Linked DNA regions of Homo sapiens. The protein of the gene in region 1 interacts with the protein of each later gene in a pairwise test. Each region holds a gene or a part of one and is shown on either strand. Other genes may lie near its edges.

What was found.
Region 2: the proteins of CLVS2 (region 1) and FLAD1 interact in binary tests that used the Homo sapiens proteins (3 or more experiments, as listed by UniProt).
Region 3: the proteins of CLVS2 (region 1) and GSTM3 interact in binary tests that used the Homo sapiens proteins (3 or more experiments, as listed by UniProt).
Region 4: the proteins of CLVS2 (region 1) and PCYT2 interact in binary tests that used the Homo sapiens proteins (3 or more experiments, as listed by UniProt).

Annotation. Positions count from the first base shown.
Region 1 is NC_000006.12:123,055,092-123,062,496, reverse strand, and holds part of CLVS2 (clavesin-2), read right to left. Parts: intron 6,692-7,405; coding exon 6,471-6,691; intron 1-6,470. UniProt on the Homo sapiens protein: Required for normal morphology of late endosomes and/or lysosomes in neurons. Binds phosphatidylinositol 3,5-bisphosphate (PtdIns(3,5)P2).
Region 2 is NC_000001.11:154,978,415-154,986,674, reverse strand, and holds the start of FLAD1 (FAD synthase), read right to left. Parts: upstream 3,332-8,260; 5' UTR 2,981-3,331; coding exon 2,609-2,980; intron 1-2,608. Other genes in the region: CKS1B (cyclin-dependent kinases regulatory subunit 1), read right to left, coding at 7,898-7,950. UniProt on the Homo sapiens protein: Catalyzes the adenylation of flavin mononucleotide (FMN) to form flavin adenine dinucleotide (FAD) coenzyme.
Region 3 is NC_000001.11:109,737,737-109,745,439, forward strand, and holds the start of GSTM3 (glutathione S-transferase Mu 3), read right to left. Parts: upstream 3,303-7,703; 5' UTR 3,217-3,302; intron 2,776-3,216; 5' UTR 2,552-2,775; coding exon 2,504-2,551; intron 2,173-2,503; coding exon 2,097-2,172; intron 1,758-2,096; coding exon 1,693-1,757; intron 631-1,692; coding exon 549-630; intron 456-548; coding exon 355-455; intron 16-354; coding exon 1-15. UniProt on the Homo sapiens protein: Conjugation of reduced glutathione to a wide number of exogenous and endogenous hydrophobic electrophiles. May govern uptake and detoxification of both endogenous compounds and xenobiotics at the testis and brain blood barriers.
Region 4 is NC_000017.11:81,908,036-81,915,776, forward strand, and holds the start of PCYT2 (ethanolamine-phosphate cytidylyltransferase), read right to left. Parts: upstream 3,365-7,741; 5' UTR 3,321-3,364; coding exon 3,232-3,320; intron 3,141-3,231; exon of another isoform or gene 2,866-3,140; intron 1,568-2,865; coding exon 1,479-1,567; intron 1,287-1,478; exon of another isoform or gene 1,003-1,286; coding exon 841-1,002; intron 600-840; coding exon 533-599; intron 1-532. Other genes in the region: SIRT7 (NAD-dependent protein deacetylase sirtuin-7), read right to left, coding at 4,381-4,579, 5,739-5,845, 6,052-6,132, 6,259-6,495, 6,569-6,667, 7,405-7,477, 7,576-7,646. UniProt on the Homo sapiens protein: Ethanolamine-phosphate cytidylyltransferase that catalyzes the second step in the synthesis of phosphatidylethanolamine (PE) from ethanolamine via the CDP-ethanolamine pathway.

The DNA.
Region 1 (7,405 bases):
ATCATGGAAAAAAAAGACTTGCTAAAGTTGTGTGTGTGAGCGTAAGACAGAATAGATGAGGATATAAGATAATAATAGGATAAGATATGAATATAAGAATAGGATGAGGAAAAGGACAATAAGGAGAAAGAGTAGAGAGAATAGAGATTTTGTGTCACTTTTAAATGCAATAATACATAATCATCTTTATTTAAAGTACATGAATAAAATACTTTTTAACAAAGGAGACAATTGCACAAAAGACTAAGTAATTAGACTTCTAACTTTGTTTTTAGGTAAGACCCAACCAAGCAAATTGGCTCTCAGATGAATTCATGTTCAAAGAGAAAGAGGCTCATTTAATGTCCTGTGCTAAAGTATTAACCTGACAACTGATATGCACTAGACTGCAAGTTCCATAAGCAGGGACTTTATCAGTTTCTTTCCTTATTGTGAATACAACATGCATCATAGGGCTTGGAAAAGAGTAAGTTCTTCATGTCTTGACTTCTAGCCAGTAAATAATTTCCAAATTGAAAGAACTTCAGTATTAAGAACTCAAAATGAAGAGTAATGAGGATAATAAAGAAAGCAATTCTGTTTTCTTTATAGAAAATAAATTTTAAATTTTTCATAAAATTAAATATATAAATATTGAGGTATATCCTAATAATATTCCATAAGTACATACCAAAGCTCTTCAGACTGCACAAGGCACAATAGTTAAGCATTTGCCCTAATATACTATTACACATTATACAGACATGCTCACATATACACATTCTAAGTCTGTGTGTTTCCTGACTGTTTTTGAAAACAATATTAGAGAATATGACATTTTTAACAAAATATTTTAAATTACAGTGTATTATTCAAGCTGGGATTAAGTTTCTAGTTTGCTTTTAGTATGCACTACAGATATGAGGATTGTTGGATGATGAATGCTGATTCCATATGTGAAACAATGCCTCAATCACAGAACAAAAGTGAGTCAGAAACAATTTGTGATTAATTCTTTTTCTTTTTGGTATTTAGTTGTCCCAAGTGTATAGTTATTTTAGTCCAATTTTTTTTTAGTCTCTTTTATGACAGAACAGGATTATTTGTGCAGGATCAGAAGTATTAATGAATTGATTTATTCTAGCCACAGCAGAGGGAGCTATCATTAACTCATACATCTCAGAGGTTTCTGGGTTTTTTTTTTTCGGTTTTGTTTTGTTTGAGGCAAAGACTCACTGTGTCACCCAGGCTGGAGTGCAGTGGCACCATCTCGGCTCACCGCAACCTCCGCCTCCCGGGTTCAACTGATGCTCCCACCTCCCCCAAGTAGCCAGGATTACAAGCGTGCACCACCATGCCTGGCTAATTTTTGTATGTTTAGTAGAAATGAGGTTTCACCATGTTGACCAGGCTGGTCTCAAACTCCTGACCTCAAGTGATCCACCCGCTTTGGCCTCCCAAAGTGCTGGGATTACAGGCATGGGCCACTGTGCCCAGCCCATCTCAGGGGTTTCTATGCAGCTTCTATTGTTTTCACAATGAATAACTTTTCTTTCTTTCTTGAAAACTAGTAATTTAGATTTAGATATCCAATACTCATTTCTCATGCATCTACAATACATAGTGTTTAAGAAACTAGATTTCGGACAGAAGTAGATCATAACTCCAGTTGCTAATAACAGCAGTTTACTAGCTGTGTGATCATGGGAAGACTAAACTTCCTAAGATTTTGTTCTTTATTGTTTAAGATGGGAAAAATAATACCCACATCATAAAGTTATAATGAGTATCAGATGCAACAATGCATCCATAAACCCCGGCACAAATTCTGGCATATGGTTAATGAAATGGCTCATGGAATACTATTGCCTATGTACAGATATTAGCATTGCTACTTTGTAGTTATGCAACATGTGGAAGTCACTTACCTTTCCTGTTTCTCAGTCTCTCTATCAATAAAATGGGGATACTACTACTTTATTACTTGCTTCAAGAAGCAAATGAATCAACATACATAGAGCATTGGAACAGGGTTTGGCACAAAGCAATAATAAATGCTTAACCTTATTCAATAATAATATATTCAATATTCAATAATCAGAAGTGCGTATCATGAAATAGGTATGGTTACTTTACTCACTACTGTTATGTGCCAGGCACTATCTTAGGCATTGGCGGCATAAGGTAAAAGACACTCTCCAGTTCTAAAATACTTAGTCTAGTGAACTTTGCATATTTACACATGACTATGCTTCTCCTCCAGAAATTAATACAAAAAGACAAGTCATCTTTTTGCATGTCTAGCTACATTTACCCAAAAGAAGAATTATCCACAACTCTTTAGTGATGGAATTATTTTCTCCCTCTTAATCTAAAGATATCATAAAACTACAAAAAGAAAAGGGCCAAGGGGAATCAGTGTGGAACATAGGAGCAATCTTCTCTTGTCCTGGATGGCGAACTGCCATTCCCTGACATAGAGAACATGAGAATCAAGTGCAACACCTTTCTTAATCTCATTTTTCAGTTTTCCATAGAATCATAAATGTTTCATATGATACCAAACGTACACCAAACAATGCCTAAAACTCTAATCAGCCCATGACACCAGCAGGAAACTCAGGACTGGGGCCACTAATGGGCTACAAGCAAAGTGTGTAGGGGAGAAAATGGTCTATTTAATTGGAGAAAAGAATCAGGATACAAAAGGTGGATAGACTAGGCTATATCTAACAAGATGGGCCTTAATCAATTAAAATAATGTGATTGGAGGACAAACCTAAACAATAGGAGGATATGGATTGGTAAGTAAAGAGACTTTCCAGTTTTAGGAACCCCCATACCAGTCAGTTTTGGCTGCTTGAACAATAGCAACAGTGACAACAACAGCAACCCAAAGAAGCCAGTGAGGTCTATCCTGCAAAGCCAGAACTCTGCAACTTAAATGCAAGTGCCAATACCAGGTTAGATGTTCCCTATTCAGTTATGAATACTGCACTTAAAGGGGGCCACTGATGGGCAGCAGAGCACTCCTCCATGCATTCAACTGGTATTTCCTGAGCACCCTCTGTTTTTCCAGGACCTTCTCCAGGCACTGGGGATTCAGAGAATAAGGTAAACATAGACAATATGGTCTCCTTGAAGCTTACTTTGGGGTGGGGTGCAGATATAAAATTAAACAAAATCAGCAATTTCAAAGGCTAAAAGTGTTATGAAGAGAATAAAATAAAGAAGGGTGATGGACAGGGAGTGACCAGAATGAAGAGGAAACAGAACTGACTAAGACCAGGTGGGTGACAAAGATCAAAAGACTCTTTCGAGGAGCTGACCTTTGATTGGGACCACCCATTTGAAGATGAAGGAAAAGAACATTCCAGGTGGCGGTGACAAGGGCAAAAAGAGAAGACTAATGTGTCTGAAAAGCAGGGGAAGAGGAAGCAGACAGGATACACCTGGAGGAGAGAGGGAGGCAGGGTCAGATCAGGTAGCATCTTGTAAGCCATGATAAGGAGGTGATTGTATTCATTGTATAAATAGCAGTCATTAAAAATATAAAGCTAAGGCCTGCCTGGTGGCTCACACCTGTAATCCCAGTGCTTTGAGAGGCTGAGGCAGGTGGATCACTTGAGGCCAGGAGTTTGAGACCAGTCTGGGCAACATAGTGAGACCTGGTCTCTACAAAAAAATAAAAATAAAAAATTAACTAGTCATGGTGACAGGCACTTGTAGTCCCAGTTACTTGTGGAGCTGAGGTGGTAGCATTGCTTGAGTCCAGGGAGTTGGAGGCTGCAGTGAGCCATGATCACGCCACTGCGCTCCAGCCTGGGCAACACAAAGAGAACCTGCCTCAAAAAAACAAAAATAAAAATAAAAATAAAGCCAAGATGTGACATGGTCTGATTCATATTTTAAAAAGATTTTTGGATTGCCATGTGGATAATAAATTGGGAGTAGGGGAGCAGGTAAGGCTGGAATCAACAAGAACAGTTAAATAATTTTTAGGGGGTGGGTGCAGCTGAGCAGAGTGCAGGTGATGTGTAGAAGATACAGAGAAAAATGTGCTCACGTGATGGGCCACATGAGGAATCATGCCTCAGGCAGAATGGCTGAAGAAAAAGGGCCTCATTAGCTGACAAAGAAGAACACTAGTGGACACCGATGACAGCTGCCTCCAAATCCTTATGTAGTTCAGTTCTGAGAAAGGGCCTCTGTGCCACGAAGGGTAGGCAGGCTTTATGTCAGTGGTGTGAAAGACTCCACATCTCATGCAGTGGAGCCCTCTGCTCCACTATATATAGACTACCTAACGTTGAGGATGCAGTATCTGTTTAACACGGTTGTTGTGAGGATTTATAAATTAATGTAAAAAAAAGACACCTACTTCATGAAAAGTACCTAGTAAATGATAGATTATAACAACTGTTATCATTAGGATTATTTTATTAGAAGAAAACTATTTTAGGGGGAGTTGCTTTTAACCACTTTTGTTTTTAAAAACTTTCAAATAATTTGATGAAATATATGACTTCTCCCCAGAAAATATATGCATGACATATACATATAGTACATTCATACTTACGCACACAAAATTTTGCATACAACTTTTAGCACTTAACAGAATCCTTTGAGAGCCCATCCATGAACCCCTTAGGAGAGCAGAGATCTTGAGAAGTTCTGTTCTAAAAGAAGGGAGTTAAGAAGCCTAAAGTTGGTTTAAATATAAGCTTGCTAACTAGTGGAAAATTAGAGCAGGGAAAATTTCTGGCCTTTCCGTTCTCTCCAAGGAGTTGTGCAGCAGCCTGGAGAGAGGAAATCAATGCACACACATACTAACAACAATCACAACAGAGGCAGCAGCATAAAAGAGACCATCCTGGCCAGGCGCAATGGCTCACTCCTGTAATCCCAGTATTTTGGAGGCCGAGGCAGGTGGATCATGAGGTCAGGAGTTTGACACTAGCCTGGACAAGATGGTGAAACCCTGTCCCACTAAAAGTACAAAAATTAGCTGGGTGCAGTGTTGGGAGCCTGTAATCCCAGCTACTCCAGAGGCTGAGGCAGGAGAATCCCTTGAACTAGGGAGGTGGAGGTTGCAGTGAATCATGATCGCGCCATTGCACTCTAGCCTGGGAGACAGAGCTAGACTCATCTCAAAAAAAAAAAAAAAAAAAAAAAAAAAAAAAGAAGACCATCCTTAAAGAACAGGCACATTACTCCATGAGTCAGAGCTATGGGCAAAGGGCCTTAAGGCTTTCATCAGAGAAGGATGCCAGACATTGGCATGACCCGTTCATTGTCCTTGTATCCTCCCTGAGCTAGGTGAGGGGAGACTTGCAGGGGCTACGGTGCCCATACTTCTGTGAATGTGAAATGAACTGGAGAAGTAATATTTGTTACTGTTATCCAAATGGACCCTGAGCTGTGGTTGCCTGGGAAGTCTGAGAATTACACATCTACTTGTTTGTGACAGAATGCAAACTCAGAGCCAGGTATGCATTTGTGCAATGTCTGACAACTCCCCAGACTATTGATTGAAAGATAAAAGGCATAAAAGTGCTGTGAGAGTCAAAGCAGGTATTTGGACTCTGACTCAACAATGAACTCTATAAAGATTAAAACTGAAGTGAAATACAATGTTTTGTACCAGTAATGTTTAGACCTTTAGACAAAGACTTGGCAGAGATATTGAAAAAGGACCAGAAACTTTGAACACAGTGTTTGAACTGGTGTGTGTGGTTGCTTTCTTCAAAAGAAATCTTACACAGAAATCCAATAAATTGCTTATAGGAGAGTTGCTCCCACAACAGTGGAAATGGGCACTCTCTCTACTCCACCTACTTGGCCTAAGGCACCCCCTCAAAACCTTTGGTTTCTCAGGATACAATTTGAAAACCACCAGATTTGGTGACTTCCAAGGGCCCTGCTAGACTGTCTGTGAATTTGGAACAACACTAAGTTGAGGTTACCTCAAATTACTTTATCTTTTCCTTAATTGACAGATAATTGCATATAGTTATGGAATACAATGTGATGGAAAAATACTGCATGATTTCACTTATATGTGGAATCTAAAAAAAGTCGAACTCATAGAAATAGATAGTAGAATGGTGGTTACCAAGCACTGGGATGAGGCAGGATGGTTTGGGGGGGTGGATAGGGAGATATTCATCAAAAAGTACAAAGTTTCAATTAGACAGGAAGAATAAGTTTGGGAGATCTATCATACATCAGGGTTACTACAGTTTTCAAATATATGATAATAATGTATTGTATATTTGAAAACCGCTAAGAGAATAAATTTTAAATGTTCTCACTATAAGAAAATGACTTTATCTTTGACTCAAAACTCTTAGACATACAATCATAGGGCATAAAGAGTTTTAAAATCCCACCAGAAAAATGTATACAGAAAAACAGAAAGCTTTGAGTTTGACTCAGGATGCCTCTCCCTGCCCTGGCCCAGCCCACTCCCCAGTCTACCTCCAGCATACCTCTTCATGGACTTTGGGGAGAGTTCCTTCTCTACTTCCTTCACAGGCATGCTGTAGGAGTCTACATTGTACTCGCTGTCATCGTCATATTCATGGTCTAGCAGTGTTCTTGCCCATGTCCCCATGTCATAAGGAGGCAGCATTCCTCCAAACTCAGAGGGCAGGATCTCAGGATGAATTAGTTGGTGTAGACTGTTCAGGTTGTTACCATGCAAAAATATCTATAAATGCAAGAAGACGGGAGGAAGGGAAAGACACAGAGGAAACTAAATACCATCTAAATCCTACAGGGGGGATGTGAGGATAGCAATAGCAAATATGAGTTTCGCATGTCTGTTAAAGTACTTTAGCCAGTCATCTACTCTGTAAAACAGGCAGAGCTGGTACTGTTATCCTAATATATCATACCAAAATCCTGAGGCTCAGACACTTTAAGTAATTTCTGGAAGGTCAGAGAGTTATTGGGTAAAAGAGCTGCAACCACAAATTTGGTTTCCTTCTTCATAGGCAGGGACATGGGCAGAATAATACGTACATGCTGATCTGTACATCATCCTGGTGTTAGTTGTGCAAACTTGATGATGTGTATAATGAATGCTGTGAAAACAGACCCTTCTCATAAGGGACTCATCAATTACAGAGCCTATGCAAGTTATTACACCAAAAAGCTGTCACTTGCAAGGCTTTCTCTTTATCATCAATAAAAATAAGAATATTGTAACCACTAAATTACTGTTTTATAATGCAAAGTGGGTGATGTAAATAACCAAAGTAGATTAGCATCGTCATAATGAAAGGCTGAGTGAAGTTCATGTCCCAAAGGACATTATGTTCTGTAATGTTGCCAGTATCTTCTCTACTAAAGATTTCCATACTGACTGTCCAAATAGAAAAAGAAACAATGAATTAAAAATGTAAAGCTGTATGCATACCTT
Region 2 (8,260 bases), on another chromosome or scaffold:
CTGTAATCCCATCACTTTGGGAGGCTGATGTGGGAGAATTGCTTGAGGCTGGCCTGTTTAACATAGCGAGAACCCCGTTTATAAAACAAATGCACACAGAAAAATAAAATTTTAAAGAAGAAAAAAAGTGCCAACTTCGTGGGATTTTTGTGTGGGGTTGTTGTGAAGATTAGTAAAATCACATATATGTGATGTATAGGACACTACCAGACTCTAGTAGGCACTTAAAATATAGGGGTCACCAGCCTGGCCAAAATGGTGAAACTCTGTCTCTACTAAAAATACAAAAAATTAGCCAGTCGTGGTGGCGGGCGCCTGTAGTCCCAGCTACTCGGGAGGCTGAGGCAGGAGAATGGCGTGAACCCGGGAGGCGGAGCTTGCAGTGAGCCGAGACCGCGCCACTGCACTCCAGCCTGGGTGACAGAGCGAGACTCCGTCTCAAAACAAACAAACAAAAACCCCACAAAAATTAGCCAGGCGTGGTGGCGGGTGCCTGTAATCTCAGCTACTCGGGAGACTGAGGTGAGATAATTGCCTGAACCTAGGAGGCAGAGGTTGCAGTGAGCTGAGATTGCGCCATTTGCGCTCCAGCGTGAGCAGCAGGAGCGAAACTCCGTCACACACACACACACACACACACACACACACACACACAGCCGGGCGCAGTGGCTCATGCCTCCCAGCACTTTGGGAGGCTGAAGCGGGTGGATCACCTGAGGTCAGGAGTTCGAGACCAGCCTGACCAACATGGAGAAACCCCGTCTCTACTAAAAATACAAAAATTAACCGGGCGTGGTGGCCCATGCTTGTAATCCCAGCTACTCGGGAAGCTGAGGCAGGAGAGTCGCTTGAACCCAGGAGGCGGAGGTTACGGTGAGCCAAGATCGAGCCATTGCACTCCAGCCTGGGCAACAAAAGTGAAACTCTGTCTCAAAAAAAAAAAAAAAAAAAAAAAAAATTGGGGTCAGGGCCAGGTGAGGTGGCTCACGCCTGTAATCCCAACATTTTGGGAGGCTGAGGTGGGTGGATCACTTGAGGTCAGGAGTTCGAGACCAGCCTGGCCAACATGGCGAAACCCCATCCGTCCCTACTAAAAATACAAAAATTAGCCAGGTGTGGTGGCACATGCCTGTAGTCCCAGCCACTTGGGAGGCTGAGACAGGAGAATTGCTTGAACCTGGGAGGTGGAGGTTGCAGTGAGCCAAAATTGATCACGCCACTGCACTCCAACCTGGGCAACAGAACAAGACTCTGTCTAAAAAAAAAAAAAGGGTCTATTAAGGCTGAGTGCAGTGGCTCATGCCTGTAATCCCAACTACTCGGGTGGCTGAGGCATGAGAACTGCTTGAACGCGAGAGGTGGAGGTGCAGTCAGCTGAGATCCCACCAATGCACTCCAGCCTGGGCAACAGAGTGAGACTATCTAAAAAAAAAAAACAAAAAAAACAAAAAAAACACAAATTTACAAAGAATATTAAAAAAGATTATTATTAAAACTTGACATTTGGCCAAGCTCAGTGGTTCATGCCTATAATCCCAGCAAGGTGTGGGAGGATTGCTTGAGCCCAGGAGTTTGAGACCAGCCTGGGCAACATAGTGAGACCGTTTCTGAAAAAAAAAAAAAAAAAAAAAAAAAAAAAAAAATTAGCCAGGTGTGGCGGCTAACACCTGTAGTCACAGCAACTCCAGATGCTGAGGCAGGAGGACTGCTTGAGCCTGGAAGATGGAGGCTTCAGTGAGCTGTGACTGTGCCACTGCACTCCAGCCTAGGTGACAGAGCAAAATCTTGTCTCAAAAACAAAAAAACCCGTGTCATCTGTTATGTCCTCTAGTAAGACTTTCCTGATCATTCGGAGGGGATTCATCCCTTCTAGTACCTTCCTTCTAGCTCACTTATCCACTACGCTGAGTACCTTGAGTCATTTCCAAAAAGGCTGGGTAAAACTCTTTTTTTTTTTTTTTTTTTTGAGACGGAGTTTCGCTCTTGTTGCCCAGGCTGGAGTGCAATGGCACGATCTCAGCTCACTGCAACCTCCGCCTCCCACGTTCAAGCAATTCTCCTGCCTCAGCCTGCCAAGTAGCTGGGATTACAGGCATGCACCACCACGCCTGGCTAATTTTGTATTTTTAGTAGAGATGGGGTTTCTCCATGTTGAGGCTGGTCTCGAACTCCTGAACTCGTGATCCACCCGCCTCGGCCTCCCAAAGTGCTGGGATTACATGCGTGAGCCACCGCACCCGGCCAAAACTCTTAAATATACAATACACACACCTGTACCTCCTCTACTCGAGGGGCTTCCTGTCATTGTTGTGTAGCTCCTCTGCCCTCTACCATACTGCTTGGTAAATTGCAATGACCTTTTTATTTTTCTTTTTTTCAATCAGCTCTCTCAGGTTGAAAAATTGTAGGGACTTTGCTACAAGTTTTTCAGTAGAGTAATTGAAAGAATGAGGGTTAATTTTCCTCCAATATGCTGGATTCACTCCAGGATCCTACTGCAGCAAAGAGGCTCCCACCCTGTTTCACCTCCTTCCATGGAGGGATGTGCAGCAGGCCCTTAAGGACAGGAGAACGCAGCGCCCTCCCCCCTTTTCTGTCCCAGACACACCTTAAGGATCTCATCTCCAACAATGATGATGCCAGCCGTCACGCTGCGCCCCGGAGAAAGTTCAGAGGCCCTAGATGTCATGGTCCTGCCTTCTCTGCCCCTCTGCAAGGCCCTCCAGTAGCCACCCAGACCCCCAAATAGGGGTCGCAAGCACGGGGGGCCTGCCAGGTCTACAGGGCACTGGGGGCCATAGCCTGGGAACAGGGGGTCCTGGGTCGAGGGAACCTGGAGAAGCCAGAAAAGACAATGGGGGAGAGCAGGCGTGCGCGTGCTTCCTTCGAGGAAGACCCTAGTCTTCTCTAACCAGATCCTTGACAAGCGACTCCTTTGTTCCTGCCTCTGGAATAAACGTGTTCCCAAATCCCAACCCATGTCCTTTTAAATGTCTTGCTTAGCTCTAGTCTTAAAAACTTCTTCTCTCTTGAGAACCTACCACTTTAAGTGTCTTCCGTTTGCTGAGCTGGTCTCCTCAAGTGTCTGCTCTACCTTGGGCATCCGTACCCCTTTAAATGTCTACCTTATCCTGGGCCTTGGCCCTTTTCAATGCATTCGCTCTCCACCCCGGACCAAAATCCCGTCTCTTTCTACTTCAGGCTTCTGCACCCTTTCTAGCCCAGAATCCCTTCTTCCCACCAAGCTTCAGATTACTGAGCCCTCTTAGACTCTCACCTGCCTGTTCTGCCCCTTCACCGGCTCTTTCCCTTGTTCCTTTCCTCATGTCCCGGGGCAGCTTCCGTACTTAAAGTCCCGCCTTGCACCTAGCTGACATTGAATGGTGATTTTGGCTGTCGCTTAGACTCTTCCAGGGTCCCATTGGTGTATTCAACTGTCGCTCTCAGGCTTTAGCCAGTGGATGGGAGCAGGGCCGGATTGTTATAGGCGACAACCACGTGGTCACTTCTCGCCCGGAAATACGGGGGCCGGACCTTAGCCCACGGTCGGGGGCGGGACCTCGGGAGTTTAGGGCGGGAAAGGAGCCGTAGTTAAAGGTGCTGTAAGGCCCTCGGGGAGTTTCTGGTGCTGGATTCAAATAATTGTTATGCATGTGTTGCTTTGTTTTGTTTTGTTTAATGGGTCAGTTAGCCATGGTTTAAGCTGTTTTCATTCACCGTGACTCTAACACTAGGCTAAGGGCTTTTACTGGAGTGAGAAAGCATCTTATTTATAGCAGAAGGAAGTTGGAGGGACACCGAGAAAGATTATTACCACTGTCTGTCGGATATGAAGACCCTGGAGTAGGTGAGCTTTTGATGTGTGGAACCTTAATTTATCTCTAGTATAGTAGACAAAACGAATTACTTAAATCTCTTTGACAAGAAAGAGTCCAAAAACCCTCTCTTCCTCCACCTTGCTCCAGATGGTGCTTAGTTCAAATGACCTTTCCCAGTAATTGGTCTTGTAGGTGCAAATGAGGCAGCGAATAGGGAGTGCCTTACATGTTTACTCTGGATCCTCACATCATCCGAGCTTACCCCCATTTCAGTTGCCTTTGTTCTAAAAGTACATCTTAAACTTTTTTCCAACAATAATCTGGGGATCTTTTCATATGCAGATTGATTCAGTAGGTTTGGGTGGGGCCTGAGATCTGCATTTAGCTAGTTCCCATGTGATGGTGATCCCACTGCTCTATGGACTACATTTTGAATGGTAAGGGCCCGAATTCATTCTTTGTTTTTTTGAGACGGAGTCTCCCTCTGTCACCCAGGCTGGAGTGCAGTGGCGCGATCTCGGCTCACTGCAAGCTCCGCCTCCCGGGTTCACGCCATTCTCCTGCCTCAGCCTCCCGAGTAGCTGGGACTACAGGCGCCCGCCACCATGCCCGGCTTTTTTTTAAAAATTTTTTTATTTTCATTTTTTTTTTAGTAGAGACGGGGTTTCACTGTGTTAGCCAGCATGGTCTCGATCTCCTGACCTCGTGATCCGCCCGCCTCGGCCTCCCAAAGTGCTGTGATTACAGGCGTGAGCCACCGCGCCGGGCCGAATTCATTCTTTGTAGGACTGGTAAACCACACCTTGCCAAATTTTACTCTTCAAAACCCTTGGTCGGGCGCAGCACTTTGGGAGTCTGAGGAGGGAGGATTGCTTGAGTTCTCTCAATTGAAAAAAAGAAAAAAAGGCCGGGCGCGGTGACTCACGCCTGTAATCCCAGCACTTTGGGAGGCCGAGGCGGGCGGATCACCTGAGGTCAGGAGCTGGAGACCAGCCTGATCAACATGGAGAAACCCCGTCTCTACTAAAAACACAAAAAATTAGCCGGGCGTGGTGGCGGGAGCCTGTAGTCCCAGCTACTCAGGAGGCTGAGGCAGGAGAATGGCGTGAACCCGGGAGGCGCAGCTTGCAGTGAGCCGAGATTGTGTCACTGCACTCCAGCCTGGGCGACAGAACGAGGCTCCATCAAAAAGAAAAAAAATACCCTGTAAGATACACATCATGCTCATTTTACAGATGAGGAACAGGCTCAGAAAGGTGAAGGGATGCCACACAACCACAAAACACAGTGAATGGTGGACCCAGGTGATCAGGTGTCTAGACCATTCTTTTAAGTAATAAGCCCCCCCTCCCTTTTTTTTTTTTGAACCAGGGTCTCTCTGTTGCCCAGGCTCGAGTGCAGTGGCGCAAGCACCGTTCACTGCAGCCTCGACCTCCTGGGCTCAAGTGATCCTCCCATCTCAGACTCCAGAGTAACTGGGACCACAGGGGCGCCCCACCATGCCTGGCTAATTTTTGTATTTTTAGTAGAGACGGAGTTTGGTCATGTTGCGCAGGCTGGTCTTGAACTCCTGGGCTCAAGTGATTCCCTGCCTTGGCCTCCCAAAGTATTGGGATTACAGGTGTGAGCCCCCGTACTTGGCCCTCATTTCTTTCAATTATAAAAAGTCAGCTCTTTGAAAAAAAAAAAAAGGGCAAAACAAGAATTCCACTTGCCTAGTAAACCACATGTTCCAATATCTTTATTAGCAATACAGGTGATATTTGATCCCCTCCCAAAACAGAATACCAAGACTGTTCCAGTATTTTCCTAGTGGATTCTCAAGCTTAAGTGTACATCAGAATCAGCTGGAGAGCTTGTTAAAACATTGCTGTGCCCAATCCTGAGTTTAGGATTCAGTAGGTCTAGGTTGTTGCCCAATAATTTGCATTTCTAATGAATTTTCCCGATGTTGATGCCTGCTATTTTAGGAATAAGTGGATGGAAGACAGGAAAAATGGGGGAGATTAATATCCTTACTTAGTACTAGTATTTTTTTTTCTTTTTTTTTTGAGGCGGAGTCTGGCTCTGTCGCCTAGGCTGGAGTGCAGTGGCGCAATCTCGGCTCACTGCAAGCTCCGCCTCCCGAGTTCACGCCATTCTCCTGCCTTAGCCTCCCGAGTAGCTGGGACTACAGGCGCCCACCGCCTTGCCCAGCTAATTTTTTTGTATTTTTAGTAGAGACAGGGTTTCACCATGTTAGCCAGGATGGTCTCGATCTCCTGACCTCATGATCCGCCAGCCTCGGCCTCCCAAAGTGCTGTGATTACAGGCGTGAGCCACGACGCCCGGCCACTTAGTACTACTGTTTTGTTAGACTAGAGGGGAAGTTATTATTCTGTGGAATGTTTTTTTTTTAAATTGAGACACAGCTTCTGTCGCCCAGGCTGAGTGCAGTGGTGTGATCTTGGCTCACTTTCACCTCTGCCTCTCGGGTTCAAGCGATCCTCTCACCTCAGCCTCCTGAGTAGCAGGGATTACAGGCACACACCACGCCCGGCTAATTTATTTTTATTTTTTTGAGACAGAGTTTCACTCTTGTTGCCCAAGCTGAAGTGCAATAGCGTGATCTCAGCTCACTGCAACCTCTGCCTCCCAGGTTCAAGTGATTCTCCTGCCTCAGCCTCCGGAGTAGCTGGGATTACAGGCGTGTGCCACCACGCCCGGCTAATTTTGTTTTAGTAGAGATGGGGTTTCACCATGTTGGCCAGGCTGGTTTCAAACTTCTGACCTCAGGTGATCCACCCACCTCAGCCTCCCAAAGTGCTGGGATTACAGGCATGAGCCACTGCACCCAGCCTAATTTTTGTATTTTTAATAGAGACGGGAGTTTCACCATGTTGGCCAGGCTGGTCTCGAACTCCTGACCTCAAGTGATCTGCCCTCCTTAGCCTCCCAAAATGCTGGGATTACAGGTGTGAGCCACCACGTGTGGCCTGGAATGTTTTCTTAAACAGCTACATTTTGCACCTGTTTTCTCAAAGCTTAGTTCTTTACCTACCTGCATAAGATGCCTGAAATCTTTACCCCCAGTCCACACTCCAGACCAATTAAGAATCCTTAAGAATGACTCAGGCAGGCATCAGTACTTGTAAAGCTCCCCAGGTGATTCCAACGCCCAAGCCAAGTTAAGAACAGCTGAAAACCTTCCCCAACCAAGGGGCACAGTGAATAGGTCATAGATATGCCTATTATTCCTATTAGGAATTGGGACACACAAGCAGCCCCTGACTGACAGCATCCTTTTATCCATGTGTGCCATTCAAATATTGGGACTATGTTAAAGGCAGCACCCCGACTGTAGGAAGCAGTTCATTTGTTTGGATGAGATGAAGTTGTCCCTATATAACCTCTACCTCAGGCTAGTAGTTAGAGTGAAATATATTTCAGTAGATGTTTGACAGCAAGTCTGCTTAAAGTAGATTAAAAACCAGTTATCTCAATGTTAAACCTCATTATCAGCAAAGAGCTGAGCTTCATTATCAAACTGAAGGGCATATAATTAGAACCATGATATTGATGATGCTCACCCTGAGTGAGGGGGAAAAAACCCGTACAATTACAGCACTAGATTATAAAAACTTCCTCTTTAATCAAGGCTTTTAACATGAACAGATTTCTTGAATAAAATGGAAAGTTTCCAGTACACTGAAACATAAATCCGCAAGTCACCACACATACAACACCCGGCAGGAAAAAACAAAAACAGCAAGTTTACATGATCCCTGTAACAGCCATGGTCTCAAACTCAGATGCTTCCTCCATCTGCCAAGTGTGTTCTGGATACAGAGCACATCGTGGCTTCTGGGGTCACACTCAGCTTAGGCTGTGGGTCCACAGAGCACTCATCTGGCTGGGCTATGGTGGTGGTGGCTCTACTCAAGAAGCAAAGCAGTTACCAGCACATTCAAACAGTGTATTGAACATCTTTTAAATATCAAAGTGAGAAACAAGAAGGCAACATAATAATGTTATCAGAAAGATGTTAGGAAGTAAGGACAGCTGTGTAAAGCTTGAGGCTGAAAAGTAGCTTGCCAGCTTCATTTCTTTGGTTTCTTGGGTAGTGGGCGCCGGAACAGCAAGATGTGAGGTTCTGAAAGAGTGAGGGAAATCTAAGAGACAAGCTCACACCATTCTATGTACAACCTATAGTGTATTCCACTACCACCTCCCCAGCTATCACCCACTCAGATCTTTATAACTAAATAAAGACTTAAGCATATGGCCTTAGAAGCAGACCCAGAAGTCTGGACTGTCTGCCAAGTACAGAATTGTTAATATCAGTTCTTTTGCTATGTTTATACAGCCCCAGGGTGTCCCTTATTAGTTTTGCCTGGCAGCTGGGTGTCTGGTGTCTTATCAATAAATATACTTTCCTTTGCTTATTTAGAACACATCCAAGA
Region 3 (7,703 bases), on another chromosome or scaffold:
AGGCTTCAGTTTTTCCTGAGAGGAAAAAACAGAATGAGAATAGTGGTGATCATCTTTGTAGTTAATCAGGGCACAGGCCAGTGATGGACACTTAGTAGCCCCTTCTCTAGGTGGGTTCTCATTGCCTTCACTTGAGGATGGCAGGGTGGGGAAAGAGGAGTTTAGAAAGAAGAGGCACCAGCACCAGAATTACATGACAAAACAAACCAAAAAATATAAGTTCTGTTTCTTATTCTAACAATCTGGATTGGTGGGAAGGTAGCAGCAGCAGAATGGAACAGAGATAACCCTTGGGTTCCTAAATACCCCTTTTTCTGATACTCCATTCAGCAGATGTGTGCTAAGGAAACTCACGTGGTCAGAGCTGTAACAGAGCCTTATCAGTTGTGTGCGGAAATCCATTACTTGGTTCTCTATGATGTCCACTCGAATCTTTTCTTCTTCAGTCTCACCACCTGTAGGCCAAATGACAACAAATCACCCTTGGCATCATCCACTCTCAGACAAACTACCAGCCTGGGGTCCCTCACCAGCCCTACCCCACTCACACATGTTGTGCTTGCGAGCGATGTAGCGCAAGATGGCATTGCTCTGGGTGATCTTGTTCTTCCCATCCAGGAGGTAGGGCAGCTGAAAGGAAAAGGACAGGACAAATGAACAACCTGCCTCTCTCTTGATTCCCTACCTCTCTCTCCAGGGGAAAAGAACACTTGCAGGGCAGTGAACAAGAGTGAGAAGATGCTGTGTTAGGAGAAAAAAGAAAATAAGTAGAAGGTAGCAACTGGGTCCACAAGATTCTAGACAGGGGTTCTTAAATTGGTGTGTGTATGTGTGAGTGTATGTGCATGCCATGGACCTTTTCTCAGAATAAAGTTGTTAAATGCATGAAGCAAAATAGATAATTTACACAATCAAAAAATATTTTTAAAAATTCAAATAAGAGTAACATGTGCCTATTAGTGCATTAAATAGCAAGCAGATGTAATGACTAACATAATCTCAAAGTAAATAACATTATATGTATATATTTACTTACATGTATATAAATATCACTTAAAATATCTGCAACGCATGTTATAGAATATGAAACTACCTGATTTCAGGCTGGGCACAGTGGCTCATGCCTGTAATCCCAACACTTTGGAAGGCCGAGGTGGGAGGACTGTTTGAGCCCAGAAGTTCAGGATCAGCCTGGGTAACATGGCAAAACCCCGTCTCTTACAAAAATACAAAAATTAGCTGGGCATAGTGGTGTGTGCCTGTAGTCCCAGCTCCTTGGGAGGCTGAGGTGGGAGGACTGCTTGAGCCTGGGAGGTTGAGGCTGCAGTGAGCTGTGATTGCGCCACTGCACTCCAGCCTGAGCGACAGAGTGAGACACTGTCTCAAAACAAAAGAACAAGAAACACACAAAAAAGAAAATACCTGATTTCTACTAGTGACAAAGTGACAGACATGGCTAATAACCAATGTCACTTATTGTCTCTCTTCACAATAAAAGGAAATAACTTTTGCTAGTGGTTAATGGGAATGAAAATACATATCCATCCAGTTCAAGGACCCCTGAATTCTATTTATTCTATCCGGGTTAAGATCCCCTATTTTGCATCCTTCTGTACCAGGCAGGAGAGAGGCAAGGATGGATATACTTGAAGGCTTTCCCTTCTGCCCGCCACCTCTACTAAAGCCACTTACATTAGGAAAGTCCAGGTCTAGCTTGAATTTCACATCCAGCCATTGGCTTCGATCATAGTCAGGAGCTGTAAGAGACGGAATTAAGTGGGACCCAACCTCCTTAATACCCCACCTGACAAGAGCAAAAGATCTAAAGAAATGACTTGGTCCCAATACCTCAAATTCCCAGGCCCCAAAAGCATAACCATTGAGCCTCTGAGCCCTATTTGGTTAAGCATTAAGACGGGTTTGGGCTATGTTAAAAAGAGAACCCCCAGTTCCAGATAAAGGATGTGTCTCTATTCACCCAGATTGGGGCAAACGTCCCACCCGGCCTTGGCGCGACGCCACCACCCTCTGGGCGTAAGAAGACCAGGGCAGGTGGAGGGCCAGCTTGGCTGCACGGGCACGCGGAGCGGCATTACCTTCCCCGCACGTGTACCGTTTCTCCTCATAAGAGGTATCCGTGAACTCCAGGAGCAGGCGGATGGCGTGCGCCAGCTGGGGAAGACAGCGGTTCAGCGACTGCGCAGCTCCCACCCATTCCCAACCCCCGCCCGCTAACGTTCCCCGGCCCGGGGCTGCCGAGTCCCTGCGTCCTGCCGGGGCGGTGGTTAAGCGGCCCCTAGGCCCGGCTCCGGCGTGGTCTCCTCCGCCCCTCCCCACAGGGCCCGCGATCCCAGAGGCTGGGCAGGGGTCGACATCCGTGGCTCGGCAGCTCGAAAAGGCTCCCGCGTAGAGCTGCTCCTGCTGGAGATCGCGGACCCAGAGACCCGCCCTCTCCGCGTCAGTCTCTTTGACCGAGCGGCTCTACCGTTGAGACGGCACTCACCCCACGAATATCCCAGTACCCGAGAACCATAGACGACTCGCACGACATGGTGACGGGCTTCCGAGCCTTCGAGGACTAGGGAAACTGTGAGCGGGAGGGGCTTTATACCCGACATAAGGGGGCGGGGCCCACGCGCGGGCGCCCTGACTCCGCCTCCGCCCCGTTCTCCGTCCCTTGCCTCCGCGGCTCCACAGGGCCGTGCGCAGGCGCGACTAATGCCGGCGTTGGGGTTCAGGGCCTGGCGACCCCGAGGCGGGACCCGGGCAGGAGTGCTGCAGGAGAGCAAAGGACCCGAGGTTGAGGCTCCTCCCTTCCCCGCGGGTGGGAGCCAGACTTCATTCATTAATGGTGCCAGTGAAGACGCGAAAAGCACCACTAGCCAGGCAGTGGGGACCCTAGTTACCCAGGGAGAGCGAGATTCGCGCCGTTTTTACCGAGCCAGCCGGGGCTGGATGAAGGATAGGAAGACTGGGGCAAGGCCGGAGAGTCAGACCAGCCTCTGACCACACAGAGCAGAAGATTCCCCACAGACCAAGCTCCCCTCTCTGTCAGTCAAGGACCTCTGCAACCTGACCCCAACGTGCTTTTCCAGTCCTGTCTCTCCCTCAGCCCGTCACAACTTCATAAGCCAGCCCAACCCAACAATACTTGCTGTTCCTTCTACACACACTTGCATTTCCCACCTTGGAGTGTTTGCTCTGTGATCCTCCTACCTGCATCCTAATTTCCACAGCCTATCCTTCCTCAGCAGCCTTGCTGAAATGTCTGCCTATTCCTTGAAGCCTTCTCAGAACCAACCTCTATCCTGGCCAGAAGAGGTCTCTTATCTTGAATGTTTCCTACCTTTGTTTTATGGGCTTAAGTAATTTATGGATTCCTTATTATAATTTCCTCCTCCAATCCCTCCCACTTCCTAATGCTCACGCATTTAGGGAAATTAATCTTGCCTCTTTGTGTAGGATGGACTGGAGGAGGAAAGGTACTACCATTTTTCATTCACTCATTCATCTGTCCAACAATGTTTAACATGCCTGTTATGGACAGGCACTGTTTTAGGTGCTGGGGATACAGAACTGAACTCAACAGACAAAATCCCTGCCCTCAGGAAGTTTACATTCTAATGGGGAAGAAATAAACTAATATATAGTAAATAGCTAGTAAGTCAGGTGGTGATACACATCCTATGGAGAGAAATAAAATCGAGAAGAGAGATAGGGGGTCTCAGGGTGGGAACTGGGGGAGTCCCAGTAGGAAGGGGATTTATGTTTTTAAAGGTTATGTTCATAGAAGGCCTCATGGAGAAGTTAATCTTTAAACAAAGACCTGAAGGAGGTGAGAGATCAAGCCACTCTGCTGTGGGGGCCACCATGGGCTGATATAAATATAAAACAGAATAATTGCTGTTCCTTTTACAAGCATGTTTGCTCTGCTCCTGCCTGCACCCTAATGTCCATGGCCTAGCCTTCCTCAAGTAGCCGTGCTCAAATGCTCACTTCTTCCTTGAAGCCTTCTCAGAATCACCCTCTATCCTGGCCAGAAGAGTTCTCTCCCTCTCTTATCTCGAATCACTTCCTACCTGCAGGAGGCAGAGAGAACTCCAGGAAAAGGGAAACAGCAAGTACAGGAGTGATCACTCTGTGTTTGAAACCAGAGACTAGATGAGATCACCATGGGAGCACGAGTAGCAGAGATGAGGTCTAAGGGTTTGAGGTGCTCTGGCATATCAACATGTAAAGGTTAGGGAAAAATGAGAGCAAACCAGCAAAGGAGTCTGAAAAGGAGTGGCCAGGGAGGTAGGAGGAAAACAAAAGGTCCCAGAAGCCATGTGAAGATGTTTAAAGGGAGAAGTGATCAACTATGTCAAGTGTGGCTGATCAAGTAAGATGAAGATGGAGAATCAATGGTTGAATTTAGGAAAGTAGGGGTTTTGACCTTGACAGAGCAAGAGACCTGCCCGAGGCCCCTATAGTCATGGGAAGAACTAAGCTTCTGAATTTCGGCAGGGCCCATGCAAATGAAAAGGGGCACAGATTTGCAACAGGGTCAACTCGGGAGACATAGGATTCTAGTTGAATGTGGAGGAGTGACAGAGGAAGGAGTCCGGAGCTGCTCTGAGGGTTCTGGCCAGGCCTCTGCAGCACAGCTCTCAGGGCAGTCTGAGAGCCTAGATCCCCTAGCTCAGGTGTGGGAAATCACATTTGCCCATCAGTTCAACTGAAGCAAGGTTGGGACTTTTTAAAAGGGCATTTTGCTAAACAGAAGAAAGGAAGAGTACAAACCACATGGACAGGTGAAATTTATAATGCCTGTGTCTCTCCTCCCAAGAAAGCAAAAGGCCAGTCACAAATTCACCTGAGGTATAAGATTAACATTTATTGAGCACCTATCATATGCCAGGCAATATCTAAGTGTTTACGTATGTTAGCTAATTTATTCCAATTTAAGCTTCACAACAACTTTAGGAAGTAGGTGTTATGCCCATTTTCTTTTCTTTTTCTTTTTTTTTTTTTGCAGTTTTTGCATTACTTTCTTTTTTTTAAATTTTATTATTATTACACTTTAAGTTTCAGGGTATATGTGCACAATGTGCAGGTTTGTTACATATGTATACATGTGCCATGTTGGTGTGCTGCACCCATTAACTCCTCATTTAACACTAGGTATATCTCCTAATGCTATCCCTCCCCCCTCCCCCCACCCCACAACAGTCCCTGGAGTGTGATGTTCCCCTTCCTGTGTCCATGTGTTCTCATTGTTCAGTTCCCACCTATGAGTGAGAACATGCGGTGTTTGGTTTTTTGTCCTTGCGATAGTTTGCTGAGAATGATGGTTTCCAGTTTCATCCATGTCCCTACAAAGGACATGAACTCATCATTTTTTATGGCTGGATAGTATTCCATGGTGTATATGTGCCATGTTTTCTTAATCCAGTCTATCGTTGTTGGACATTTGGGTTGGTTCCAAGTCTTTGCTATTGTGAATAGTGCCGCAATAAACATACGTGTGCATGTGTCTTTATAGCAGCATGATTTATAATCCTTTGGGTATATACCCAGTAATGGGATGGCTGGGTCAAATGGTATTTCTAGTTCTAGATCCCTGAGGAATCGCCACACTGACTTCCACAATGTTGAACTAGTTTACAGTCCCACCAAAAGTGTAAAAGTGTTCCTATTTCTCCACATCCTCTCCAGCACCTCGTTTCCTGACTTTTTAATGATTGCCATTCTAACTGGTGTGAGATGGTAACTCATTGTGGTTTTGATTTGCATTTCTCTGATGGCCAGTGATGGTGAGCATTTTTTCATGTGTTTTTTGGCTGCATAAATGTCTTCTTTTGAGAAGTGTCTGTTCATATCCTTTGCCCACTTTTTGATGGGGTTGTTTGTTTTTTTCTTGTAAATTTGTTTGAGTTCATTGTAGATTCTGGATATTAGCCCTTTGTCAGATGAGTAGGTTGTGAAAATTTTCTCCCATTTTGTAGGTTGCGTGTTCACTCTGATGGTAGTTTCTTTTGCTGTGGAGAAGCTCTTTAGTTTAATTAGATCCCATTTGTCAATTTTGGCTTTTGTTGCCATTGCTTTTGGTGTTTTAGACATGAAGTCTTTGCCCATGCCTATGTCCAGAATGGTATTGCCTAGGTTTTCTTCTAGGGTTTTTATGGTTTTAGGTCTAACATGTAAGTCTTTAATCCATCTTGAATTAATTTTTGTATAAGGTGTAAGGAAGGGATCCAGTTTCAGCTTTCTACATATGGCTAGCCAGTTTTCCCAGTACCATTTATTAAATAGGGAATCCTTTCCCCATTGCTTGTTTTTGTCAGGTTTGTCAAAGATCAGATGGTTGTACATATGTGGCATTATTTCTGAGGGCTCTGTTCTGTTCCATTGATCTATATCTCTGTTTTGGTACCAGTACCATGCTGCTTTGGTTACTGTAGCCTTGTAGTATAGTTTGAAGTCAGGTAGCATGATGCCTCTGGCGTTGTTCTTTTGGCTTAGGATTGACTTGGCAATGCGGGCTCTTTTTTGGTTCCATATGAACTTTAAAGTAGTTTTTTCCAATTCTGTGAAGAAAGTCATTGGTAGCTTGATGGGGATGGCATTGAATCTGTAAATTACCTTGGGCAGTATGGCCATTTTCATGATATTGATTCTTCCTACCCATGAGCATGGAATGTTCTTCCATTTGTTTGTATCCTCTTTTATTTCCTTGAGCAGTGGTTTGTAGTTCTCCTTGAAGAGGTCCTTCACATCCCTTGTAAGTTGGATTCCTAGGTATTTTATTCTCTTTGAAGCAATTGTGAATGGGAGTTCACTCATGATTTGGCTCTCTGTTTGTCTGTTATTGGTGTATAAGAATGCTTGTGATTTTTGTACATTGATGTTGTATCCTGAGACTTTGCTGAAGTTGCTTATCAGCTTAAGGAGATTTTGGGCTGAGACAATGGGGTTTTCTAGATATACAATCATGTCATCTGCAAACAGGGACAATTTGACTTCCTCTTTTCCTAATTGAATACCCTTCATTTCCTTCTCCTGCCTAATTGCCCTGGCCAGAACTTCCAACACTATGTTGAATAGGAGCGGTGAGAGAGGGCATCCCTGTCTTGTGCCAGTTTTCAAAGGGAATGCTTCCAGTTTTTGCCCATTCAGTATGATATTGGCTGTGGGTTTGTCATAGATAGCTCTTATTATTTTGAGATACGTCCCATGAATACCTAATTTATTGAGAGTTTTTAGCATGAAGTGTTGTTGAATTTTGTTAGAGGCTGTTTCTGCATCTATTGAGATAATCATTTGGTTTTTGTCTTTGGTTCTGTTTATATGCTGGGTTACATTTATTGATTTGCGAATGTTGAACCAACCTTGCATCCCAGGGATGAAGCCCACTTGATCATGGTGGATAAGCTTTTTGATGTGCTGCTGGATTCTGTTTGCCAGTATTTTATTGAGGATTTTTGCATCAATGTTCATCAAGGATATTGGTCTAAAATTCTCTTTTTTGGTTGTGTCTCTGCCCGGCTTTGGTATCAGGATGATGCTGGCCTCATAAAATGAGTTAGGGAGGATTCCCTCTTTTTCTATTGATTGGAATAGTTTCAGAAGGAATGGTGCCAGCTCCTCCTTGTACCTCTGGTAGAATTCGGCTGTGAATGCATCTGGTCCTGGACTTTTTTTGACTGGTAAGCTATTGATCG
Region 4 (7,741 bases), on another chromosome or scaffold:
AAGGCCTCCACGCTTTTATTGACTGAAGGGAGTGGCAGGAGCACAGAAAAGGACCCTTGCTGGGGCCCAGGTGTGCAATGCCAGGGAGAGGATGGGCACTGGGGTAGCAGCTCTGCTTCCTGCCTCCCTCACACCCACGTCCTGCCCGCTGAGCATCTGCAGCTGAGTGAATTCTCAGCTGCAGCATCTCATGCGGGAGCCACTGGCCTCATGTCCCTGACGTCTGGTAATTCAGATATAGTGCCAGCTCCCCAGCAGTGCCAGCCACGTCCCCCGAGCTCAACAGCTGCCACCTCACAAAGCTGTGCCTTTGGAGCCCTGGGGCCATGGGTCTGCAGCACCAAATGGCAAGGGCCTCCAGGCCACCCCACAATGGCACCTCCATCCCTCGAGTTCCCAGTCCTGGGCGTGAGGAACATGGCCCAGGGCCTGGACGCTCCCCTCACGGGCTCCCGGTAAATAGCAAAGCACGAGCCAGGAGGGAGCCCCGTGTCCAGCTCCCTGGATGGCCAGGCCCGCGGTGGAGACTCACCTGTACCTCCCAGCCTGCTTTACTTCCTCATAGGTGTCCCGGCCATCTACAGTCAGGGTGATGTCATCTAAGCAGTGACACACAAGGACAAGGATCCTTAACCCAAAGCCACCAGAACCTTCAGAGCCCAGGACCCTCTCGGCCCCTGGCCTGCCCTAGTGTCCGCGTGCCCATTTCTAGGTGGGGGCCCGGAAATGTCTCAGATCCTCAAAGGGCGGAGGCCCCCTGTTCCCGGATGTCCCACCAGCAGATCTGATCCTGAGCCACCTGATGTCCCCAGGCCCCCAGGTCCCAGCCCCGCCACTCACTGCCGTGAACACAGAAGTCACAGTTGTATTTGTCCAGGGTCTCTAGTGTAGTGACGTAGGGAGCCGCTGGCACCACCTCGTCCACCCATTTGATGGCCTGCACCATCTTGTATCTCTCCTCCTGAGTGAACACCGGGGGCCCCTTGTGCTTGGCGATCTCCTCTAGGAAAAGGACAACGGGGAGACTGGGGACCCCAGCCCACCCGGCCCCTCCAGTAGGAGGCCCCTTCCCAGCACCCAGCTGTAGCCACACAAGAGGGCCGGTGGGGGCAGGCTGTCTCTCTACCCTGGCCCTTAGCCCACTAGTGCTGGCCAACTGGGTGGCTCTCTTCCCTGCGAGGGTCTCAGGCAAAGGCAGAGATTCCTTCTGACGAGCAGGTGCTCAGCCCCTGAAGGCTTGGGAGCCTCGCTGGCAGTGGTGGGGAGCAGGTGCCCCTTCTCTTTAGCTGGGACAGGAAATGCAAGATGGGAAAGGCATTAGGCCATCCTCAGCTGGGGCTGGGCTGGGTGAGCCTACAGTGCCCTCCCCTACAGCTGTGCCCTGGCAAGGTGGCCCCAGGCCTGCAGGCTTTCAGTCAACAGTCGCAACCCACAGGAGGGCTGGGGGGCCGCGGGTGGGCGAGGCCATCTGTGCTTACCATCGGTGTGCACGCCTACGATGAGGTAGTCACCCATGGCCCGTGCCTGGCGCAGCTGGTTGGAGTGGCCGTAATGCACCATGTCATAGCTGTGGAGACAGAGAGAGTGGGTGGTCCCTGTGCCAAGGGTGGGGACCAGGTGTCCCTGTGGGTTAGGGGCAGAGCTTTGCTCCTCTGAGGACTCCTTAGGAAGCGCTCTGAGAAGCTGCTGCTGGGAGCCCTGGGACTGGGATTCGGAGGATGTAGGTGCTCAGCTCTCCACCCCACTGGCTCCTGGGCCTGACGGTGGGACCCCTGTGCCAGATCTAGAAAGGGTGGCAGGGGCAGAGATGTCAAGGCCTGGCTGGGTCTAGAGGACTGGTGGGTGCAGGACAGACTGGAGCCCACTGAAAGCTGCAGGGCCACGTGTCCTATCCCCTCACCAAATATCAACTGCCCTGGGCAGTCACTTTAAAATAAGCCGATGTTAACTCTTGGGGTAGGGTTGGATCCTAGACTACCTTGAGACAAGCAAACAGTCCCTGGGGCTAACCCAAAACAAATCCAACCACAAAATAAAACCCTGGGAATCACTGGCCCTGAAAATCCTGTCTCTCCTCCCTTACGGCCTCAAGCTCAGCAGGCTTAACGCTAAGGGTGAACAGCCACTGCCTTGCCACCTGGCTCGAGAGTTTTCATTCACAAATCTAGGTCTGCTAACACGTGAACTCTCAAGCCCAAAGCTACACAGCCCTGCCACCAACTGGGCCTCGCTGCCCTGGCTTCTTCGCCACTTCTTTACAGCAGCGGCCCATCCCCTCAAGTGGACAAAGCTGTCCCTGCCTCTCCAGGGAGAGGTGTGACCCTGGCAGCCCACACAGTGCACAGAGTTGCTCCACTGCACACCACTGCTTCCTCCCAGCACCCCTGCCACAGTGCGCGGAGCCCGGCAGACATGCTGGGTAAAATCTGGCGGGCCCATGTACCCACTGGACAGGCTGGAGGGGAGGAGGGGGCAGAGGCTGGGCCAGGGGAGCACAGTCTGGAATGGGGCTGGGGCCTGGTCAGGGCAAGGTCAAAGTCCACTGACACAAAGCCACATTCCTTTTCCCAGAGGTGACTCGGACACAGAAGACAAGGCCCTGCTTGCTCTCCTGGGAAGGGCTAATCAGATAGAGGCGCTTGCTTCCTGGATTCCATCCGGCAGGCACGTGAAAGGGTCAGAGGTAGCAAATTATCAGTAACGGTCGTCTTCCTTTCACTTGTTGACAACCCGAAACTTTTCTTAAAACAATGCCCTCTGACTGGCCAGGGAAGACCGATCGCATTCTAGCCCCGCGGAGGAGGACCCGGGAGCCCGCGGGCTTCACCGCGGGTCCCGGACAGGCAGGTCGCACCCGATGCCCACCTACAGGGACGCTCGCCCGGAGGCCAGGGGAACCCCTGGACCGGAGCCGGGCAAGCTGGTTGCTGGTGGTTACGGAGAAGCAGGGAGGCCGTGGCTCCAGATCTCAGCGCGGTGGCTGCACCGGAGAGGTCGGCGTGACCGGGCGGGGCCTCCGCCAGAGGTAGACGGGGTCGCCCACGGCAGGGCGCGGAGCCTCTGCAGCCCGACCCTCCCGGCAGGCGAGCCCCGCAGCCTGCCAGCCCCGGCCCATGCCGGACGAGGACGCCACCCAGAACGCGGGCCCGGTCCCCGGGCAACGGCTGGCGCGGCGCCCCGGAAGGAAGCCGGCCCCGGCGCCCCCGCGGCCCGCCCCGGCCCCGCGCTCACCAGCCATCGCACCACACCCTCACGGCGCGCCTGCCCCCCGGGCCCGGCTGCTCTGCGCCGCCTGCAGCCCCGCGCCCGTTCCGGATCATGGCCCCGCAGCGGCGGCGCGGACAGCCTGGCAGCTCCCGGCGACTCCGAGCGCCGCCGCCCGCCCCGCCAGGCGCACGCTCAGCGGCCGTCACGCGGGCCTCACCCGCTGCGCACGGCCAATGGCGTGCGCCGCTCGGCCCGAGCCCCGCCCCCGCCTCCCCCGCCCCGCCTCCCGCCCTCCGCCCCGAGCCCCACCCCCCGAAGGCCGCGCCCCACCGCACCTCCGCGCACGGCCAATGGCGTGAGCCCCTGACAGAGTCCCGCCCCCTCCAAACGCACAGCCAATGGCGTGTGCCGCGCTTTCCGAGCCCCGCCCCCCGACCCACACCTGGCCTCTCCGCACCGCCCACACCTGGCGCTCGGCTGGCGGGGCAGTGCGGCGTGGGGACCGTCCCACCGCCGCCACCTCCGGGAACCTCCACGGGGCGCTGTCCCAACCAGGGGAGTTTTTTTTCTTATTTTTTGGCACAATAATCTACAGTTGTCCCCTGTCCAACCAAGGGAGTTTTAAGCCACGACCGAGCTGCCAGGCGGCAGACCTGAGCCCGGGGAGCCCGCGCCGACCACTCGGGGACACCGGAAGCCAGTGCAGAAACGTTTAATAGAAATAAAAAGGTCTGCATAGAGCCGAGGCTCGGAGCCACCCCTCTGCCGCACATCCAGTACAGAGAGGATTCTATAAAGTTCACACTTTTTCATTAAGTAGTAGTAGAAATACGGTGAGGCCCTGAGACTGGCCTGGTGAGCGAGGAAAGGCCGCTGGGCGCTTCCACTCTGCAGGCCGGGGCTGAAATAACCCGAGTTCCGTTCTCACAGAAAGGTGCGGCTGCCACCTCTTGACACAGAGGCCGGATGGGCAGGTGTCCTCGATGGCCAGGCCGTATCAGGGTACAACCGCAGCAGTGCAAGGGGCTTCCTCAAGGACAAATGGCTAAAAATGTCACGGTGAAAATGTCATCCCCAAAGAGTTCGTTCTCCCTAGACCCGTGGGGGCAACCCAGCCTTCACCGTGACACTGGCCATCTGCAAAGTGCCAACTGTTCTTCATCGAGCACGTGATTACGTCACTTTCTTCCTTTTTGTGCGTTTTGTGCAGCCCCTGCCAAACCAGCCCCCTAGGATGGGGGCCGAGCTAAGCGGTGCACCCCGGTCCCCAGGCGGGGCCTCCTCTCTGCTTCTGCACAGCGACTTCCGACTGTGGCTGCCTTCTTCACCAGCACGCAGGGGAGTCGCCAGTGAGAAAATGGGATCCTGCCACCTGCCAAAAAGGGAAAGCGGCATCAGGCGGGCCTGGGAGCCTCTCGCAGTCACACCTGCCCCAGCTCGGGAAAGCTGTCTGCGGTCCCTGCCTTCCCATCCCCTTCCCTCCCGTGTCAACTGCGGCGGGGCTCTGGTTGGCGGCAGCTTCATTGTTACCAAGCTGCAGAACGGATGTGGGAGAGGTCACCTCTTAGGTGGTGACTCAAAGGTCGGCACCCACACTAGCTCGGTCTCCTCAAAACTCCGTGTCCTTGTCCACCACTGAGCGGCGTGCACACACAGGGTGGGGCAGCAGTGGCCCCAGGGCTGCCTCCGTCTCCAGGGATGAGTCACTAGCAACTCTGGGCCCCACCTTCCACTTGTACCGCTGGGGCAGGTGGACCAGACCCTCTCCCCCTTCCCAGCTGACTAGGGAGGCGTGGCCTACAGACGACCCCGTGAAGAAAGCATGTGTCTGACGGAGATGCAGAACCACAGATCATAACTTAAGATACAGATACGCACTGATAAGGAAAATGAGCTAAGTTAATGTAAAAAAAAAATACAGTACACGATAGCCCACATCACAGAACACCACACACATAACATACAAGAAGTGCCAGGCCCAGAAGGTGAAGGGATCCTTAATTTCTTGAACCCTTTGATTAAAAGAAGTTATTGATTTCCCCTATAAGACCCTGAAAATTCACAGAGAAAGAGAGTGTAAACTTTTTACTCAATACATACACCAAGTCTAAATTATCACAAATTCTGTATTAAGGCACAGTTTGTTTAAGCTTTCCCAAAGTACGCCAACTCCCAAAACCAAGCACACAGATTCTGTCTGACCAGAGCTGCCGAGTGCTCGTCCCCTCCAGATGCTTCCCACCAGGCATCTCGGAGAGCTCCACGGGGAGGCCTGGAGCAGGAGCACGCGGGCAGAATCCCTCTCCCCGCGGGGATTGTGTGTGCCACATCAGCCAGGGCAGGAGTGGCACACGCAGGGTCTCCGCCAACCACCGAGGTCAGGCCCTCTGGAGACCACCACGCTTCAGTCATGCCTCAGGCACCACTGCAAACACCTCAGAGCTTCCTCCACACTCAGCTCACGAGAGAAGACAGACAAGGCCCAGCACACAGAGGTGCGGGGAAGCAGGCTGCTGCAGCGGCTCACTCACCTGCTATAGGCGGGGATCTCCAAGCCCAGCTCGGCCATGAGGAGCCGCATGACGTCATCACACTTCCCATGTAGCTTCAGGGCAGCCCAGTCATCCTTCGGGGTCCACTGAGGACAGGGAAAGCCGAGTGAGAGTAACAGCAGCCCAACCCTTCCCGGTGGCCTGTCAGCCTTGGCCCCTACGGGCTCAGTCGGTGCTCCCTGAGCACCCACGGGGGCCCTATCAGACCGCCCTGGTGCATGGGTGTGGGGTGTCTCTGGCTGTGCGTTCTAAGACCCAGATCTAAGGACGTGGCTCTCAGCACCCGAGTTACCTGCAGGTTCACGATGTAAAGCTTCGGCCGCCGGCTAGGGGGCTTGGTCATGCACCAGAGGCGTGGGTACTTCTTTAGAACCTGTGGAAGCAGACAGACAGACACCGCACACACACAAGGGACAAGTCTGTACAGTGCTGGGCCGCAGAGCTGGACACCCTCGGGCGGGCAGGGGCTCGGTTCACTCATTGTGTCATCGGCACGTACCTTCAGGCTGGACCCTAGACACAGGATGGTGTCTGCTCTGCTGGCAGCCTCGGTCGCCGCTTCCCAGTTCAAAGGCTGCCCCAACGTCCCCCTCTCCCCAAAGTGCACAATGGTGTCCCGCAGCTGGGTCCCACACTTGTGGCAGGTCCGGCCTGTCTGGTGTCTGTGGAGGGCAGTGCGCTCCGTCACATCGAACACCCGCACGTACTCCCTGTTGGGAACGCAGGAGGTACAGACCTAGAGGCAAGAGGGCACAGTGAGTGGGACCCGCCTGCCCATGGAGACCCTGGGTCCCTGCAGGACTGCTCACTTCAATGTACATGTTCCCGTGGAGCTCGGAGATGGCCGTGCGCGGCAGCCCACTCCTCAGGTGGAGCCCGTCACAGTTCTGAGACACCACATGCTGCACCTGGAAGGCAGAACGGGTGGCAAGGGGAGGGATGGCTGCCAGTGGTGGTGGGGAGGTCAGTACCCGGCCACAGCGAGGCTGTTCTGAGCCCCGCCGATGGCTCCCAAAACCAGGGGCAGCTCCGTCCCCCCAGAGAGCCTTAGAAAGTAAAACACACAACAGGTCCAACCACCAGGAGTCAAGAGGGCCTGTGGTGGGGAGGGGCTGTCCTTCCTCCAGCCCTGATGCACCTGGAGTGGCTGGGAGGGCAAGAGGTTGCACCGTCCCGGCAAGGTTGGGAAGTGGCTCGGGGTTTGGCAAGGGCCACTCTGCCCCAGATCCATGCTCTCTTGGGTCATGACATTTCAGGTCCCTGGGGACCTAGGCAGATCAACCACTACACCCCATTGGTTGAGGGTGTTCAGCAGAAGGTCCCCAGAGATGTCCTATAAGCCTCCCCTGTGACTAGGATGGCTTCTGAGGTCCACAGAAAAATGCAAGGGAATCACAAAGGGGAAAGGCCACCAGCAGCTCTGAGGCTGAGGCTGGCTGCGGATGGGATGGTTCAGAGGGGGAGCTCCCCTTCTGTCCTGGAGAGTCAAGCACAGGAGGATCAAACCCGCGGCCTAACCCGCTTGGTGGGTGCTCATCATGGGAGTCAACTGGCAGACAGAGGGCGGGTGCAGTTAGTTGCCCACTGGGCACCAAGGTGCTCTGCCTGGTCCCTGGCAAGTGTACCAGCCACCCAGGGCTCTTACCAGCTTCTGCTCATGCAGACGGGTGATGCTCATGTGGGTGAGGGTTGGCTCGGCCTCGCTCAGGTCGGCAGCACTGCCAGGCAGAAAGGAAGGCAAGGTGAGGAGAGCTGGAGCTCAGGCCCGTGCTGCCGCTGCCCAGCCTATGTGGGAGGCCATGCCTGGCCCGCTTACCTAACGCTTCTCCCTTTCTGAAGCAGTGTCCACACTCCATTAGGGCCCCGGTAGTCTGGGATAGACGCTGCCTGCATGTCGAGAAAAAAGGTAAGCCAAGTCAAAAGGCACCACTGTAGGTACTGGCAGAATTCCCAGAAACGGAAAGCCACTGTCACTCCTGCCG